Linked DNA regions of Homo sapiens: region 2 is linked to region 1. Evidence: fine-mapped expression QTL. A gene starts in region 1. The other region holds a variant in brackets. All regions are shown on one strand. Distances are from middle to middle. Region 1 holds the start of WFIKKN2 (WAP, follistatin/kazal, immunoglobulin, kunitz and netrin domain containing 2). Region 2 has its middle 25 kb from the start of MIR8059.

Region 1 (9,788 bases):
AGGCACTCGGCCGCCGGGAAAGCCGTGCCATTGGGGCTGCTCTCTGAGGTGGCTGCAGCCTGATGACCCCTGACCACCGACAGCGGGAAATCAGCCCTCAGGACCCCAGCCACGTTCCGGGCCGTGCAGGTGTAGATCCCAGCATCCTGCAGCTGGGCGTTATAGATGACCAGCTGGGCAATGTTGGTGACCACCACGTTGCCACGCACATGGTTGGGCCGCATGACCACATTCTCCCGATCCTCCAACTGCTTCTCCCAGGTGATCTCAGGCCGGGGCCGGCCCACCACATCACAGAGGAAGCTCACTGTCTCACCCATGGTGACCGACTGGTGCACAGGGTTGTTGAGCAGCGCAGGGGCCGCCATGTCCAGCTCAGGGGTCTCTGGGGAGGCTGTGGTGGGGTGCATGGTGGTCTCAGGTGGTGGGGGGCTGGTGTTGGGCCAGGTGAAGTGATAGCGGCAGGTTACAACGGCCAGTGTGATGCCTTTGGAGCAGGCCTCGGCATCCATGTAGCAGCGGTTATAGTAGGTGAGGCCGTCCGAGGCGCAGGTAAAGCTGGGCTCCTTCTCACAGCGGTCTTTGCACTTACACACGGGCTGGCCATCCCAGATGTCACACTCAGAGCCCTGCTGCAGACACATGAAGTGGTCACATGTGGCCTCCTTGGGCATGCCCACTGGGCCCTTCTTCCCTTTCACGTCCATGTAGCGGGCCGCCACGCAGCTCTTGGTCCCACATACGTTGGGGCAGCACTTCTCATAGGTCTCACACTCCTGAAAGAGCCAGAGAGAGTGGCCTGAACAGGGAGAAGGAGGAAAGGAGGGGCTCCCTATCCTACCCCATGGTTTGTGGGGAGGAGAACTAACATGTACTCACCATCTAGTGGGAGCAAAACACTTGAAAATAATAACGAATGCATACGTAGCATCTCCTACATGCTAGGCCCCTGTGTAAGAACTTTGACATCTGTGAGCTTGCTATGCTCATCACAAGCCAGAGGTGGGTATAGCCATTATCTCCACTCCACAGATGATGACTGAGGCACAGAGAGGCTAAGTAACTTTCCCAAGGTCACTCAGCTAGCAGGGTAGGAAGGGGTGGGCCAAAGACTCTAAGAGGAAAAGTTTTCCTACAACCATTTTACAGATGAGACTGCAGAGACTCAGAGAGGTGATGCCCAAGTTCACAGAGACGGGAAGTGGCAGAACAAGGCTCCAAGCTCCCAGTGGAAGGGATTGAGAAATGGAGTTTTTTCTCCTGCATCATATAGCACAAATGAGGTCTAGCTTGAACAAGTAGGCCTGCCTTTCATCTCTTTCCTATGGGAGTGAGGATGCCTTGCTGACTGGAAGAGATCGCATCAGAGGTTAAGAGGGGAATGCCCCTGGGACTTTATCCGAGATGATCCACACCTCTCCTCCCCTCAAGGAGACCGACACACACGGGGAACAGAGGCTGTGAGAGGGCCCAGATCGATCCACAGCCAACAGTCAGGGCAGGCGTGACGGGCCCCACACGCCAGGTCTCAGAGCCACAGGCTGTGCCAGGCCCAGGTATCAGCTCCGTGTGGGACCTTTCACGGGAAAAGCAACAAGAAAAAAAGTCCCCTTGTGTGGCAAAGGTCAGCAAGGCCGTCAGCGAGGACTTGCCAGGCTGTAATCCCCTCTGATATTCTGTGGAGCCACGTAAAGCATTAGTTTAATTCCTCGAAATTAGCAACATGCTCCTGGAGCTGACACAAACAAGGATTTCACGTGGTGTTTTCGACAATAACACATCGTACCCACTTGGCAGGCAGGCAACGCTCCTAATCCTCCACCAGGTAGTAACTCTGTGAATTACTCCCCACTAGGGCTGGCCTCTTGTCATTCCAACTTTTATTTCAGCCTCTTTGACATTCCACATCAGCTAAGAGGGGGAAAATATCCCCCCACCCTGGCTGCATGGAGCCTGCCTGCTTGACTTGTTTACTGTTCTACCCGTTTCGGCTCAGAATGGGGACTTTGTTTTGCAGCCCTTGTTTGGCATAGTCTTCTAGGCCACACCAGGGGAGGCTTTGGGACAGGGATGGGCAGCTCTCAGAGCTGGGTCTAAGGGAGAGAGACCCCGCAGGGAATGGAGAGCAGGAGAGGGAGTAGGAGCAGGAGAACCTTCTCCTTGGCCTGAGCCTCATCCCATTCCCTAAGACATTCAGGACCTGGAGGTCCATGAAAGCCTGGGTCCTTGGGCACCAGAGGGAAGGTACTTCTGGCCACAGGGAACCTACAGGGGGTCCTTAGAACACTTCTGTGTAAGGGGGCCAGAATGTCCCCAAGGGCTGTCTGGATACCCAGCCTTCCACAGGTGCCTTCTCTCCAAGACACACAAAATCCACCAGAGTCTCACCATCCCCAAGCCCTACCTGGTTAATCAGGCCAGCCTGTGCCTGCAAATGTAGCCAACTAATGGCATGACCTTGGCCAGATGGGAGCAGCCACCACTCCTCCTGACTTCTTATCTTCCTTTCACTTGGCACCACCATTGCCCAAGGGGAGCATCTGTCCTGGGAGGCCTAAGAATTGTCCCTGGGCACTGTGAGGTTGAGGCCACCCTCTCCAGGTCAGCCCTCTGCTCTCCTGTGGGTAACCAGGCATCTATGGGGGAACCAGTGTCTCTCGTGTTCCCTGGGGATGCCCCAGCCTGGATCTGGAGCCTTGGGAGACTCCGTGCTGCCCTCAGAGCTGGCCAGACTGGGCAGGAAATAGCTCTGCCTGGAGCAGGTGTAGGTCCCACAGCCTGTTGCCCCAGAGGGGGTGGGCAGGAATGGCCCTCGGGAATGACTCGGGAGCTAGAAGAGAACTGGCCCTGCCCTGCAGCAGTGCCCTCTGATACAGAGCAGAAGGCAGGACCAAGGACGCTGGGAGGCTGAAACGTGGTCTCCTTCCTCCCAGGGACACCAGAGATCCATTCAGAGCTGCTCCTGCTTGGCCTGCCGTCAGCCTGGTCTTCTCTCAGGCTCAGGGTCCAAACTCCTGAGGAGGTGGCCTGGAGTCCAATGCAATCAAAGCTTTCTTGTTAGACATGAGTTCCAAGCTCATCGTTCCCTCACTGGCCATGACAACTGTGCCCTCCGTGCCTGGCTCTGTGTCCACTCTCTCACCTGTGAATGGGCTGCTGATGCCCACCATGCTGACATGTCATGCCAACATACACGACGTGCCCGGCACGGTGCTGGCCACAGTAGCCCTCAGCACGCATGAAGGAGGAATCCTCGGGCTCCAGTCCCTGATGAACTGGGACATCGCTCCCACCTCTCCTTCCAGGCTTCGGTGTTAATAGACAGGATGGTGCCCTGTTTCTCTCCAGGTGAACGGGGCCTGTGTTCCTTCACCTTCCTAGGACCTGCAGGGCACTCCTGCATGGTCCCCACCCTGTGGCTCCCACCCCCATCACTCACAGGCTCATATGGTCCATCTCTGGCTTCTGGACCCCACTCACCTGGTCCGCCTCACACTCCAGCTTCTGGATCCCACTCACCTGGTCCATCTCACACTGTGGCTTCTGGACCCCACTCACCTGGTCCACCTCATACTCCCACTTCTAGATCCCACTCACCTGGTCCGCCTCACACTCCAGCTTCTGGATCCCACTCACCTGGTCCATCTCACACTGTGGCTTCTGGACCCCACTCACCTGGTCCACCTCATACTCCCACTTCTAGATCCCACTCACCTGGTCCGCCTCACACTCCAGCTTCTGGATCCCACTCACCTGGTCCATCTCACACTGTGGCTTCTGGACCCCACTCACCTGGTCCGCCTCACACACCGGCTTCTGGACCCCACTCACCTGGTCAACCTCACACTCCCACTTCTAGATACCACTCACCTGGTCCATCTCACATTGCGGCTTCTGGACCCCATTCACCTGGTCTGCCTCACACTGTGGCTTCTGGATCCCACTCACCTGGTCCATCTCACACTCCTGCTTCCGGACACCACTCACCTGGTCCGCCTCACACTGTGGCTTCTGGACCCCACTCACGTTGTCCTCCTCACACTCCCACACAGTCCCTCCCCGACGGCTCCCACCCCCGTCACTCACAGGCTCACGTGGTCCATCTCTGGTCTCTGGACCCCACTCACCTGGTCCGTCTCACACTCCCGCCTGCAGGTGCTCTGTGCGTCCACCCAGAGGTTGGGATTCATGTCGTTGGGGCAGATGCCGGCGTGGGAATAGCGGATGGGCGGCAGCGCCAGGCTTCGCGGGGGCACCCCGAGCAGTAGCAGCAGCAGCAGCAGCGCTGCCACCTGCTCCCAGCGAGACCAGAACCGGCGACACCTTGGGGCCCACATGGTGCAGGCTGGGGCGGCTAGAGACCTCCCCTGAAACGATGCCAGGGTCTGGGGCCCACCAGGGCCTTCTTCTCAGGGGCTGCAGACACCTGCCCTCCCCACCCCAGCAGGTTTCCTGCTCAGGCTGCTGCTCAGGCTGCTCTGCCGCTGCTGCCTCCACCAAGTCAGCACAGCCTGCCGGGCTGTGCGGCTTCAGATAAAAGAAAGGTCTTTAGAAGGAAGCTCCCTCTCCTGAGTGTGCAGGGAGAGGAGCCACAGCAGGGGCCCGCGCCCGGATTTATATCCTGGGCGCGCCACCCGAGTGGGAGCCAGCTAACCTGATGCCTGTCACAGGCAGGCTGCTGGCGCCTCTGTCCCGTGGCTGATCACAGACTTATTGCAGAAGGGGGGAAAAAAAAAAAAAGAAGCTGGAAGCAGTTTAGGCAGCGTATCTGGCACGGTGGGACACCTGCTTGTTTTTGACTCCAGGAGGCCTTTAACCCCTTCAAGGGCCAGAAATGGCATGTGCTTTGCGGGGAGCTGGCTCCAGGACACGCAAGCTCACTCTGAAGGAGGGCTTGTTTCCCTTTCCCCCACCTCCTTGGGGCCGGGCCCCCTCCTCCCCTTTGGCCACCTCTAAAGAACACACAATCGCTTGTTACGAGGAGGGACCTGCAGCCACCGGGTTAGCATCGCCCGGCTTGATAGTACATTTGAGAGCAAATGACGTGGAAAAACAACAAGTTCACGGCCATTCCAGGGCGGGCCTGCGCCGCGCTGTGCCCTGTAAGCCGACTCCCACCCCGGCCCCGGCCCTTTGTGGGGGGTGTGCGCACGGACAGCTCTGTATCTCTGTGTCCAGGGCAGTTTGCGTCTTAAGTTCCAACTTCAGTTAATTTTCCCCAAATCATTCCAGAGACACATACCAGATATGCTCTGGCCCCGCCGGCGGCTGGGACGGATCACATTCCTCCCTCTTCCATCGACACACCGAGAAAACCTCCGCGGTCACAGTGTCTCAGGATTGTGCCGGAGTCCAGCTGCCCTCGCTGACGACCACAGTGGCTGCTCTTCAGTGAGCTCCTTCTGACTGCCAGCCTTGTCTGGCCTCCCCCACTTCCCAAAGGAGAAGGTCTGTGGTCGAAGAGGGCGAGCGACTTGTCCAAGGTCGCACAGAGTGAGCAGTCCTGGTGGTACCAGCTGCCAGATGCACTGGGCTCTTCACACGTGTGGCTTCTCTGAACGCATCATCTCATTTAATCCTCACAACAAACTGCACCTCCATTTCAGATCGGAGGAAAGGACGCACAGAGAGGCTAAGCAACCTGCCCATGTCGCACAGCTACCCCACCACGGTACAGGAAACAGGGACACCAGCTTGCTGGGTGTGGGCAGGGGCCTTTTAAAATCACCCCTCCCCCATCCATCTGCCAGAACTGCTGTCAAGGCACAGCCCAAACTCTGGTTTTCACAGACTGGACAAGAAATTTTTGAAACATCAGGGGCTATATTTGTGGAGGGGCCGGGAAGAGAGCCAGAAGCTGCCAGGGGCTGGGGGCGATTCCTCCCCCATTTGGCAGCAAATGGCTTCTATCTAAAATGCCACAGAGCAGCCTGCAGTCTGAGTGTTTTCGAGTTGGTCACTCGATCCTGGGGGTAGGGGGCGGAGGCACATAGAGCCCCGAAAGAGAGGTACCTTTCCAAGGCCAAACCACAAGGGCCTTGAGGAGCTGCTGTGTCCCGGGGACAGTAGGTGGAGTGGCCCCCACACGCATCAGATACGGAAGGGATCCTGAAGGTAATCTCGCTTTACAGCTAAGGAAACTGAGGCCTGAGCCCAGGCCGCTCCTTCCCCACGTCCACTTTCCCCTTCAAGAACACAGCTCGCCATCTCACAGGACTGTAAAACGGCCACGGGACCCTCGCTTCCACACCCAGACCCTTCCCCTTCCCAGCCGGGCGGGTGCTGCCTTCTCCCCGCCTGAGCTGGTCCCTTCCCGTTGTGCGGCCATTCTGCAGGATCTGTCTTTTCTGCTTATGTCAAATCGCTAATGAAGGGTGTCAGATCCTAATCCTCTAAATTATTGGAATAAACTTCCCTTCGAGGCCAGTCCCCGTAATGAAGCCAGACAGCGGGCGACGCCGGCTGCTTTGAATTCCCCGTAATTTCATCAGCCCGTGTTCCAGCTGCTCCGCGCGGGGGCCTTCACACAGCCCTTGGACAAACGCGGTTTGCGCAGCCTCCTTTGATAGCACAAAGGGACATGGACAGTGACACATTTATAAGCAGGACTTAGAAAAACTGTCACAGCCCCATTAGGCCAGGACAAGTATCCAAGGAGAGGAGGCCGATTTCTGGGCAGTCCCAAGAGACCATTAGAGGGTGTGGGAGAGATGAGAGGGGGTCGGAGGAGGGGAGGCACCGAGCAGAGGTTGGGGGGTGCTGAGGAGGGCAGGAGAGGGGCACACGGCAGGGCAGGGGAAGCTTGGCCATCCTACCCCCACTCCTGGGGCTGATGGAGAAAGCCCCCACACCCAACCTGGTCCTGTCTCAAGCCACGGACTTCTCCTTCCCGGGCCCCATTCCTGGACGTTCTACTCTGAGAACTCTCAAAGCAGCATCGGGAAAGAGAGGAGCCCAAAGCACTCTGACTCTCCCTCCAGCCCTTCCAAGTCTCCCACCAAAACACAGCTCAGAATAATAAATAACATCTGATCGGCCTGGAGCCCACACAGTGTTTTCACCTGCACGTTGCTGCTGACCCCACGGCAGCCCCAGGAGGGAGCTCCCTAGCGCGGGAGAGGAAACCGAGTCACAGAGAGGTTAGGCTGGGCCCTCCTCCTGCCCACCCCGGGCCTATGGCCTCCACACACCCCGTGCAAGCTTCCAGCCCCTCCAGAAAGCGACCCCCAGCCCATGCTGGCTGCCCCGCCCACTGGCTTGTTTATAAGCTGTTTGGGAGCGCTTTGAAGTCTTCTCCTCCCTCCCAGAGGCCCTTGGAACTGGCTCTGGATCTGCCTCCTTCTCTCTCTCCTCTTGGTGTGTCTGTGTGTCTGACTCTGTGTCCCTCACACTCTTCCCTGTGGGTGGTGTGGGCCCTACCCTCACCAAACCCACGGTACTGAAGGTGGGCCCAGCGGGAGCGGCTCAGTGGCACATGCCCACTGTCCACCGGGCCTCCTCCACTCAGGCCACTGGGAGCAGAGGCTGGGCTGGGTCTCCTGAGCAGAGGCCTGGCCTCGGGCGTGATCTGCCTTTTCCCCTTTCCCCAAGGACACCAGGCACAGCTCTCCTGCTACTCAGAATGAGAGGTCAGAGAGGGCTGGGCTTGGCCCCATCTTGGAAGGGCCCCTCCATCCCCCACCATTGTCACAGGGTGGAGAACCATGGATTCTTCACACTGCCAGGGTGGGTTCAAATCTGCTCTAGGAGCCGTGGGAGGAGGTCACCAGGTCACTCTCAGTGACCCTTGACCTCAGGTTCACCCTGACATTAACAACTCCTGAGCCGCTAGGGTCTTGACGGGACAGCACAGCTGATACCATTTCCCAAGTCAGCCAGCCCCCAGCAGCCGCGATGGGGAGGTACAGAGGTGCCACAAGAGTATCTTGGGTGCCACGTGGCTTATGCACACCCCACACCCACACTCCTACCTCACACTGCACCTGCTCCCTCTATTTCTCTCCACAAAGGTTTTTTAGAGCACCTACGGTGTGCCAAGTTCTGGGCACATCGGAACCAATAACTGGCCAGGCATGGTGGCTCATGCCTGTAATCCTAACTCTTTGGGAGGCCAAGGTGAGCAGATCACCTGAGGTCAGGAGTTTGAGATCAGCTTGGCCAGCATGGTGAAACCCCATCTCTACTAAAAATAAAAATAAAAAAAAATAGCTGCACATGGTGGCGTGAGCCCGTAGTCCCTGCTACTTGGGAGACTGAGACAGAAGAATTGCTTGAACCCAGGAAGCGGAGGCTGCAGTGAGCCAAGATCACGCCACTGTACTCCAGCCTGAGTGGCAAAGCGAGACTCCATCTCAAAAAAAAAAAAAAAAGAAAATAACAACAATCTTTGTCCACAGGGAGGGTACCGTCTAGTCTAGAAAGCCAGCATGCAGAGATAAGAATGGTGAATGCTGGTGGGGAGTCCTCTCAGGGCTGGGGAACAGAGAGGAGGGAGAGACCTGGGGCTGGCTCTCGCACGACCATGACATTGGGTGGGGCCCAAGCCTGGGCAGAATCTCAAAGGAGGGAAGGCATTTCCTACACCTCTCCTTGGAAAGGCCTGGCCCACACCACAGTCTCCTCGGCCAAGGCCCTCCCTCCGCGGGGCCCAGGCCTCCGGAAAGGGGAGGTGATAGGGACGTCAGCAGGTTTAGGAGATGGGGTGGGGGTGGGAGCTGCAGGTCTTGCAGGCGCGGCACAGGGTGGCCCCAGCAAAGTACACCCCAGCGGCCCATTCTGGTCTACCCTGCTTGGGCCCCAGATCTGAGCCAGCCACATTTTCTCCCAAATGGATGGGGGGAAACCAGCCCCCCAGGAGCCCCTCCCGCTCTGATCTTGGTCATTTAAACATGTTTGGGGAGGAGGGGCAGGAATTGGGGTGCTGAGAAGGAAAGGAAGTCCTAGCCAGGGTGCTCAGATGGCAGCCCAGGTTGCCTTGGCTAAAGGCAGTGATTAGTCAGACTCAAGCCGGAGAATTCAATAAAGCCAGCGGCTCATTACCCAGCTGGGACCCCCTGCCCGCGCGGCCTCGGGCCTGGGTTGCATTACAGGACCGCGTGAACTCTCCCCTCTGAGTGAGGCTGCACCGGGCCTTGGAATAATTATGGGGCCTCAGCAGATGGTGGAGACGGATGGGGGAGGCCTTCAGCTGTGAGACACGTGATCCATCTGCATCTGTGTGGAACAGGACACGGGAGGGTCCTCACTGAGCAGAGAGGTAAAGCAAGGGCAGTCCTGAATCCACATCTGAGAATTATGGGGTTGTCAGGGGTGGGGCATGGCCCAGTGTCCCGGGCCAGCTAGGCCTCCTTGGAGACCCTTGCCTGGCCCGGGGGGGTCTACAGGTGCAGTGAGCCCCTGGAATCTGGAGTCCTGGAGTCTCTGTGTCAGGAACCCAGAAGAGGAGGCACCTCTGGGACAGCACAATTCTGGGCTCCTTTGGCATTCAAATGTCTTCCTAGAAGATTTGGAGCCTGTCTCGGGCTCCTCACCCACTCGGGAAGCTACATGGTCTTGGTTTGAGCACTGTGCAAGGAGTCAGGAGCCCTGGGCTCTCTTCCTGCTTTGCCATCATCTCACTGTGGGACCCCCTCTATTTCCCCATCTGAGGCCCCTTCCAGCTGCCTCTTCTGTGATCCCATGTCCTGACTCCTCCAGCTTTGCCTTGATGGAATCAGCTTCAAAAAGCCCTGTGGAGCTCTCAGCCAAGACAAACACCAGAGTGCAGAAGCCACAAGGCTGTGGGGCTG
Region 2 (9,788 bases), 42 kb after region 1:
TGGTGGCCTGTCCCCACAAGGAAAGGGGCCCTCACAAGGCCAGCCTCAGACCCTGTGCCTGACCCAGGGCTCCTTTGCAAAACAAGTTCTTTTTTTTTTTTTTAATACTTTAAGTTCTAGGGTACATGTGCACAACGTGCAGGTTTGTTACATATGTATACATGTGCCATGCTGGTGTGCTGCACCCATTAACTCGTCATTTACATTAGGTATATCTCCTAATGCTATCCCTCCCCCCTCCCCCCACCCCACAACAGGCTCCGGTGTGTGATGTTCCCCTTCCTGTGTCCAAGTGTTCTCATTGTTCAATTCCCACCTATGAGTGAGAACATGCGGTGTTTGTTTTTTTGTCCTTGAGATAGCAAAACAAGTTCTTAATACTGCTCCTTCCCGAGGGGCCCTGAGGCCCAGCTTGCCAAGCGCCCACAACGCACCTCCAGCCAAGGTTTCAACAGATCTCACGAACAACCCCAGTCCAATGGAACACACCATGGAAACCGTGTTGTTTACGTTTCACAGATTTGCCGGGGATAAAGGCTACTTAATGAAGGAGGGCCTGAAAGTACTCATGGGAAAGGAGTTCCTTGGATTTTTGGAGAATCAAAAAGACCCTCTGGCTGCAGACATAACAATGAAGGACATGGACCAGTGCCAAGACAGCACACTGAACTTCCAGAACTTGTTTTCACTCACTGCGGGGCTCACCACTGTGGACAACAACTATTTTGTAGTACCTATGAAGCAGAAGGGAACGAAGCAGGCAGAACTAAGCAATTACTCAGCCCTGTGAGAGTTCTCCCAAAGAGTCGCTATAGGAACCTGCCCACAGCTTCCCCCTGTAGAAGGCTTTCATGAGCAGACCAGGGCCAAGAAAACAGACACATCAAATCCAAATCTCATCTAACAAGCAAAGAAAGGAAGTTAATTAAATAATAGGCTTTTGGTCTTTGGATTGTTTGCATCCTCTTGGCCTCAATTGACACATCCTTTTTAGTTTGGGAAAAATATAGATATACTTTTTAAATTATTTTTTAAGCCTTTGCCTCTGTACATATATATTTTTATATTATATATATATAGTGTTTGGCTGAGCTCAGTGGCTCATGCATGTAACCCTAGCACCTGGGGAGGCTGAGGTGGGTGGACCTTGGGCCCAGGGGTTTGAGACCAGCCTGGTCAACATAGTGAGACTTCATCTCTACAAAACAAAACAAAACAAAAAAAACCAGCCAGGTGTGGTGGCGTGCATGCCAGTAGTATCAGCTACTCAGGAGGCTGAGGTGGGAGAATTGCCTGAACCCAGGAAGCTGAGGCTGCAGCGAGCTATGATCACCCCCACTGCACTCCAGCCTGGGTGACAGAGTGAGACCCTGTCTCAAAAAAAAGTACATATATTTATGTATGTATGTATACATACGTATCTAGAGTTTCTTCTCACTGTGGTTTGAATGTGTACTCCCAAAAACATGTGTTGGAAACTTAATCCCCAATGCAACAGTGTTGAGGTAGGGCCTAATGAGACGTGATTATGCCAGGAAGTTCTGCCCTCAAGAAAGAGCTAATGCTGTTATCTCAGTGGGAGTGAGTTCCTTATAACAGGATGAAGTTGGCCCCTTTCTCTCTCTGTCTCTACCTCTCTTGCCCTTCCACTGTCAGATGATGTGGCAAGAAGGCCCTCACCAGATGCCGGCCCCTCAATATTAGACTTCCCAGCTTCCAGAACTATAAGAAATAAATCCCTGTTCCTCATAATTATCCAGTCTCAGGTACTCTGTTATTGCAGCATAAGACAGACTAAGACACTTCTCTCTCCGTCAACCACATTCCTTTTTTTTTTTTTTTTTTTTTGAGACGGAGTCTTGCTCTGTCGCCCAGGCTGGGGTGCAATGGCACGGTCTCGGCTCACTGCAACCTCCGCCTCCCAGGTTCAAGCGATTCTCCTGCCTCAGCCTCCGGAGTAGCTGGGATTACAGGCACCTGCTACCATGCCTGGCTAATTTTTGTATTTTTAGTAGAGACGGGGTTTCACCATGTTGGCCAGGCTGGTCTTGAACTGCTGACCTTGTGATCCACCCGCCTCAGCCTCCTGAAGTGCTGGGATTACAGGCGTGAGCCACTGCGCCCGGCCTATTCTTTTTTTTTTGAGACGGAGTGTCGCTCTGTCACCCAGGCTGGAATGCAGTGGTGTGATCTCAGCTCATTGCAACCTCCGCCTCCCAGGTTCAAGCAATTCTCCTGCCTCAGCCTCCTGAGTAGCTGGAATTACAGGCACACACCATGACACCTGGCTAGTTTTTGTATTTTCAGTAGAGATGGGGTTTCACCATGTTGGCCAGGCTGGTCTCAAACTCCTGACCTCAAGTGATCCACCTGCCTTGGCCTCCTAAAGTGCTGAGATTACAGACGTGAGCCATCATGCCTGGCCACCACATTCCTTTTCTTCCAGAAGGCCACTCTGCCCTCATCCTCCTCTTGCTTCCTTCTCAGTCTCCTTTGTGCCACCTCCGTGTCAGCCGCTCTTTAATGAGGTGTCCCCAGGGTCCTGCCTCAGTTCTCTTCCTGCCTCTCCCTGCTCTGGTTGCTCTGCTCCCATGGCTTCAACTCTAGTTAAGGTGACACCAGCTGCTATTACAGGCAAACACCAAGGTTTCAGTGGCTTAATGTAATAGAAGTGTATTTCTTCATAGGAAATCCAGTTGGCCTGAGTTCCACAAAGTCACAAAAGTTTTTTTTTGTTTGTTTTTTGAGACAGAGTCTTGCTCTGTCACCCACCCAGACTGGAGTGCAGTGGTGCAATCACTGCTCACTGCAGCCTCAACCCCCTGGACTCAAGCAATCCTCCCACCTCAGCCTCCCAAGTAGCTGGAACTACAGATGTGAGCCACTGTGCCCAGCTAGTTTTTTATTTTATTTATTTATTTATTTATTTATTTATTTATTTATTTATTTATTTTTTAGATGGAGTCTCATCACACTGTTGCCCGGGCTGGAGGGCAATGGTGCGATCTCGGCTCACTGCAACTTCCGCCTCCTGGGTTCAAGCGATTCTCCTGCCTCAGCCTCCCGAGTAGCTGGGATTATGGGCGCCTGCCACCACGCCCAGCTAATTTTTTGTATTTTTTAGTGGAGACAGGGTTTCACTGTGTTGGCCAGGCTGGTCTCGAACTCCTGACCTTGTGATCTGCCTGCCTCAGCCTCCCAAAGTGCTGGGATTACAGGCGTGAGCCATCACGACTGGCCCAGTTTTTAAATTCTTTGTAGAGATGGTGTCTCACTATGTTGCCCAGGCTGGTCTCAAACTCCTGGGTTCAAGTGATCCAGCTGCTTCAGCCTTCCACAGTGCTGGGATTACTGGTGTAAGCCACCATGCCCTGCCCCCTGCCATCTTTGACACATGGCTTCCTCATTGGCCTTGGACATCTGTATCCAGTCAGCAGCCTGGAGAGAACAAGGAGAATGGTTTGGAAGGTTGTGTGGGTTTTTATGATAGACAAGTACCTCACTTCCACCCACC[T/C]TCCACTGGCCCGAACTCCGCCCATGGCCACATCTAACGCAATGAAAGTCGGGAATGTGATCTAGCAGTTCATCTGGCAGTAGAGGGGCTGGCGTTCGATATAGCTTAGATGTTTGGCCCCTCCAAATCTCATGTTGAAATATGAGCCCCAGTGTTAGGAGTGGGCCTGGTGGGAGGTGTTTGCATCATAGGGGTGGATCCCTCAGGAATGGCTTGGTGCCCTCCCCATGGTAATGAGTGAGCTCTCAATCTATTAGTTCATGTGGGTGCTTTGTTTTTGTCTGTTTTTTTTTTTTGAGACAGGGTCTCACTCTGTCATCCACGCTGGAGTGCAGTGGTGCAATCACGGCTCACTGAAACTTCCACCTCCCAGGCTCAAGTGATTCTCTCACCTCAGCCTCCTGAGCAGGCCCACACCGCCACACCTGGCTAATTTTTTTTTTTTTTTTTTTTTTTTTTTTGAGACAGAGTCTCACTCTGTCACCTAGGCTGGAGTGCAGTGGCACAGTTTTGGCTCACTACAACTTCTGCCTCCTGGGTTCAAGTGATTTTCATGCCTCACCCTCCTGAGTATCTGGCACTACAGGTGCCTGCCACCATGCCCAGCTAATTTTTGTATTTTTAGTAGAGACAAGGTTTTACCATGTTGGCCAGGCTGGCCTTGAACTCCTGGCCTCAAGTGATCTGCCCACCTCGGCCCTCCAAAGTGCTGGGATTACAGGTGTGAGCCACGGCGCCCAGCCTGATTTTTTTTTTAGAGATGGCGTCTTGCTATGTTGCCCAGACTGGTCTCAAACTTCTGGCCTGAAGCAATCCTCCTACCTTGGCCACAGTGCTGGGATTACAGGTGTGAGCCACTGCACCCGGCCTGGTTATTTAAAGGAGCCTGGCATCGTTCTGGCCATGTGGCGTGCCTGCTCCCCCTTGTCCTGTGGCCCTGAGTAGAAGCTTCCTGGGGCCTTCCCCAGATGCAGGTGCTGGTATCATGCTTCCTGTACTGCCTGAAGAACCATGAGCCAAACACCCCTCTTTCTTTATAAATTACCAGCCTCAGTTTCCTTTACAGCAATGCAAAATGGACTAAGACAGCGTTCGTAAGCCTCTAGCCAGTCTCTGCCATGGGTTGCCCAATAGCCACTAAGTAGCCATTTCACTCTTCCTCTTACACATGGAACACACTCACTGCTTCCCGGAGAGGCAGCTGAGTCCACACCATCACTGCCTCCTGGGGCCTCCGCCACAGTTCGGGATCTCCAGCACACACAGGATTCTCTCCTCCAGGTCCTCTGTGACTCCCTGTGATCTGGAAACCGATGCCTAAAAGAACAAGTTATCGTGTCCTTCCTTTCTCCACCCCAGTATAGACACACAACACACTTCCGGATCCAGTGGTGGGGTGCAGATAGGGCAAGCACAGGACAACATCCTCTTCAGAGAAGGGAAGAACAGAAGATGCAAAGCAGGCTCTGATGACAGCGATGATGCCATTTGGCCAGGTGGGTGCTGGGAGCGCCCCCACCCTTGAAGGAATTGCCCTGTCCTCTTCTCTATGGCTCCCAGCCCTGCCCTCCACACTGTCGTCTTGCCATGTTGCTCCAAGGCCGCATTCGCAGCGACCGTTGAGGGGTAGACCCTCCCGGGTTGCTGCTCATCTTTTGTAGCCTGCAGCTCCTTCGGGTAAAAGTTTTAAGATCTCAAAGTGGTTTTGTTTTGTTTTGTTTTGTTTTGAGACGAAGTTTCGCTCTGTCGCCCAGCCTGGAGTGCAATGGCGCAATCTCAGCTCACCACAACTTCCACCTCCCGGGTTCAAGCGATTCTCCTGCCTCAGCCTCCCAACTAGCTGGGATTACAGGCATGCGCCACCATGCTCAGTTAACTGTGTGTGTGTGTGTGTGTGTGTGTGTGTATTTAGTAGAGATGGGGTTTTACCATGTTGGTAAGGCTGGTCTCGAACTCCTGACCTCAGGTGATCCACATGCCTCAGCCTCTCAAAGTGCTGGGATTATAGGCGTCAGCCACCACATCCAGCCTCAAGGTGGTTTTAAGGCCCAAAAGTTCAAACACTTTCTCTCTTTTTTATTTGTTTATTTTTTGAAGTTCAGGCTTATGGCTTATTTGACATACAGTTCCCTGAAAATCTGAAAAGGCTCCTCTACTTGCTTCCAGTCATTTCTGGATGCCAGCAACCACGTGCGAAATTCACAGTTAGACACAGTTCTCCAGCCTGATTCTTCTGCTGTCCGCCCTCCGGCCATTCTCTCTCGATGTGCTGATGGCAATCTTGAGGTTCTCAGGCCTGGGGAAGGACACTCCCTGACTCTGACCTTGCCTGAGGTTGAGGCTTCATGGGCCTTTGCTGCTCAAAGGCCTTTAAGCTATGATTTCCTTCTGTTTGGCATCTAGAAGCCGTCAATGTTCCTAACCAATACCCCAAATTCCGGGAGTCCCTATTTCATCTTAGTTTTGCTTGCAAATCAGCCAGTGCTCACTGGTCCCATCTTATTCTTCTGAGACCTTGTTAAGTGCTGCCTGTACTTTATGACTTCTTCCCTTAGAGCTACAGGGTCAGAGGACAGCTGACCTGTTTATCTCAGGCAACTATTTTACCAAATGTTTTGCCGTTGCCTAGCATGGGTCTCCATCTTTCCAAACCCTGACAAAGGTTTTCTCACTATCTTGCCCAACTACAAAACCAATGCCACACATTTTCGATTTTCATTATGGCAATATCCCGCTCCTAGTACTAATTCTATCTTAGTTAAAGTAACACTAACTTATGGAAGAGATACCCCACCCCCAAATTTCAGTTGCTAAACACAATACAGGTTTATTTCTTACTCCATAAAAGGAGGATGGGGGCAAGGAATTGGGGGACCTCCATTTCTGCTGTAAGAAACGGAAATCGCCGATTCCTTGCACCCCATCTGGTTTTCTTGTCTGGGTTTCTTACAGTGTCTCAGACAACGGGAGGCTGTGCCACTTTCAACATGTGGCTTCTAAAGGCGATCTGAATATCAGAATTCAGGTAGCAAATAAGAGAGAGAGAAGAGTAGCTGTGGCCCTGCTTTAGTAGATAAAGTTTCATTGAAACACAGACACATTTACATATTGCTTATGGCTGTCTTCACACAACAACGGCAGAGTTGATTAGGTGCAATAGAGATGGCATGGCTCATGAAGTCTAAAACCGTTACCAACTGGTCCTTTACAGAAAAAGTCGGCCAATGCCTAGAGGAGAAGATTGGAGAGCTAAGGGTAGATTTTCATAGGCCAGACCTGGAAGTGGCTTTGCCACTTTACTCACATTCCACTGGACAGAAAGCAGCCCCCTCAATGGAGGGAGGCTGCAAAGTGTGTTCTTTTGTTTTGTTTTGTTTTTTGAGACCAAGTCTGCCTCTGTTGCCCAGGCTGGAGTGCAGCGATGTGATCTTGGCTCACTGCAACCTTGAACTCCCAGGCTCCAGCAACCCTCCCACCTCAGCCTCCCAAGTAGCTGGGACTACAGGCACACGCCACCATGCCCAGCTAATTTTTGTTGTTGTTGTTATTGTTGTTGTTTTGTAGAGACGGGTTTTCGCCCCGTTGGCCAGGCTGGTCTCGAACTCCTGGGCTCCAATGATCTGCCTGCCTTGACCTCCTAAAGTATTAGGATTACAGGCGTGAGCCACTGTGCCTGGCCCAAAGTGTATTCTGGATGTGTCCCTAGAAGGAAAGGGAAACAGCTGGAGTTATCATCTGGTCGTTCTCTGCACAAGCACCATCCAGGCCCTGAGGATTTCTGACTGGGCACTTATGGGTCCAACTTCCTTCCTCAACTTCACATCCGTGTTTCTAGAAATCTGCCAGTCATCTCACGCTTCGTGTCCTCAACAGAACCTGATCCTTTTCCCTCTGAGCTGGCTTCTCCTTCTGTGCTCACTCCCAGTTAATAGTCCATCATTCACTCCAGTGCCCAAACTGGAAGCCCCAGGAATGCCCATGGCCCTCCCAGTCCCTCAGCCCCATAATGCAACACTCTCCTAGCAGATATCATTGCCTCCTCTTCTCCGTAGCCTGCCACAGCCTCAGCGCAGGTTCTAGTATTCGTCTTGTTCCTTGTCTCAATAACCAGAACCATCCCTGAAGCTTGCTCACAATTGTCTGAGTTCAGCTTCTTCAAAATCTCTTTTAACTAAATTGCTCCCCCATATTAACTCTTGCTGTCCCAAAGGACACGAACACATCACCTGAGGTCACCCATCATGCAGTGGCAGAGCTCAGATGGGAACTTTGGCTTATGAGCCTTCACAGGCCTCACTCTCCCATTCTTTGCAGGATAAAGCACCAGGAAGCACAAAGAAAATTCTTTGCATAGCAGAAACTCTCAAATGGTAGAAAGTGAGCAACCCCATTTCCACACACTCAGAGAAGAATTTTGCAGTGGGCTGAGCAGTTTTGCTCTGTGGGAACACAGCATATACCTCTCATGGGTTCTCTGTTTCCTTTTTTTTTTTTTTTGAGACAGAGTCTTACTCTGTCACCCAGGCTGGAGTACAGTTGCATAGTCTCAGCTCACTGCAACCTCTGCCTCCTGGGTTCGAGCGATTCTCCTGCCTCAGCCTCCTGAGTAGCTGGGACTACAGGCGTTCACCACTACTCCCGGCTCATTTTTGTATTTTCAGTAGAGATGGGGTTTCACAGTGCTGGCCAGGCTGGTCTTGAACTCCTGACCTCAGGTGATCCGCCTGCCTTGGCCTCCCAAAGTGCTGGGATTATAGGTGTGAGCCACCACACCCGCTGTTTCCTTTTTTTGAGACAGGGCTCCACTCTGTCTCGCAGGCTAAAGTGCAGTGGTACAATCATAGTTCACTGCAGCCTCAAACTCCCAGGCTCAAGTGATCTCCTGCCTCACCCTCCCGAGTAGTTGGGACTGCAGGCATATGCGCCACCACGCCTGGCGAATTTTTTTTTTTTTAATAGGGTCTTTTTCTGTTGTCCAGGGTGGAGTGCAATGGCATGATCTCAGCTCACTGCAACCTCTGCCTCCTGGGTTCAAGTGATTCTCCTGCCTCGGCCTCCCAAGTAGCTGGGATTACAGGCACGCACCAACACGCCTGGCTAATTTTTGTATTTTTGGTAGAGATGGGGTTTCACCACGTTGGCCAGGCTGGTCTGGAGTTTCTGACCTCAGGTGCTCCACCTGCCTTGGCCTCTCAAAGTGCTGGGATTATAGGCATGAGCCACAGCACCCTGCGAAGAGATTCTTCCTCTAGGACAAAGCCCCCCCCTCCAAAGACCCCTGAGGGTCACTGCAGGGCCACTCCTCTTCCCTCCCCTTCCTAATGGTATAGCAGCCATTCTGTGGGACAAAAAGAAGACAAACTGAGGTAGGTCCTCCTGGGAGTCTGGGACTGGTCCTTGGGGCTGCCTGGGTGACCCCCTACCCAATTCTGTTTCCCTGGCACTCCCTACCACCCTCTACTGCTCCTTGTGACACCGTCCTTCTGTAAGATCATCTTCTCTTTTACACGTTTGCTTATTCATTACCTGTCTCTTCTACCTGGAGGTAAGGAACCAAATTAGACTGGCAACACCGCCTCTTGTTCTCCTCTATTTCCAGCATCCAGAAAAGTGTCTGGCTTATCCTTGGTGCTCCATAAATTTTTACTGAATGAATGAATAAATGAATTCATGAATGAACAGGATGGCTAGTGAGACTCTGACGGCCTCCTGCTTCCCCCACACTGTGGAAGGTGGGGCTCCCCAAGCCTGCACTCCTACCTGAGATGCCAGTCTCTTTGTCTACTTTAGACACCAGGTTCCAAAGACCCTGTGCTCTCAGATACCTTTTATGTCTAAAGCAGAGGCCCTACCCCAGCACTCCCCATCTCAGTAGACAGTAACTCCATTTACCCACTTGTTCAAATTCAAAATGTCAGTCATCCTTGGCCGGGCGCGGTGGCTCATGCCTATAATCTCAGCACCTTGGGAGGCCAAGGCGGGCGGATCACCTGAGGTCAGGAGTTTAAGACCAGCCTGGCCAACATGGTGAAACCCCCTCTCTACTAAAACACACAAAAATTAGCCAGGCGTGGTGGCGCGCACCTGTAATCCCAGTTACTTGTGAGGCTGAAGCAGGAGAACCACTTGAACCCAGGAGGAGGAGGAGGACGTAGTGAGCCAAGATTGCACCACTGCACTCCAGCCTGCGTGACAGAGTGAGACTCCATTTCAAAAAAAAAAATAGTGTCAGTCATTCTTGACTCCTACCTCCCTTTCCTCCAATGCACTGGCG

Evidence for each region.
Region 2: its variant is fine-mapped to the expression of WFIKKN2 in blood mononuclear cells (TOPMed, PIP 0.95).

Annotation. Positions count from the first base shown.
Region 1 is chr17:50,830,487-50,840,274 of GRCh38, reverse strand. It overlaps WFIKKN2 (WAP, follistatin/kazal, immunoglobulin, kunitz and netrin domain containing 2), which reads right to left and starts at 4,689. Exons shown (of 2, transcript NM_175575.6): 1 at 4,128-4,689; 2 at 1-776. The coding sequence starts at 4,337. RefSeq lists enhancers at 6,977-7,497, 7,498-8,018, 8,178-9,048, 9,049-9,788.
Region 2 is chr17:50,788,331-50,798,118 of GRCh38, reverse strand. No RefSeq gene overlaps it. Among named protein-coding and RNA genes, the nearest start is that of MIR8059, 25 kb to the right of the region's middle. The variant T/C (reference allele first, on the strand shown) is at 3,515.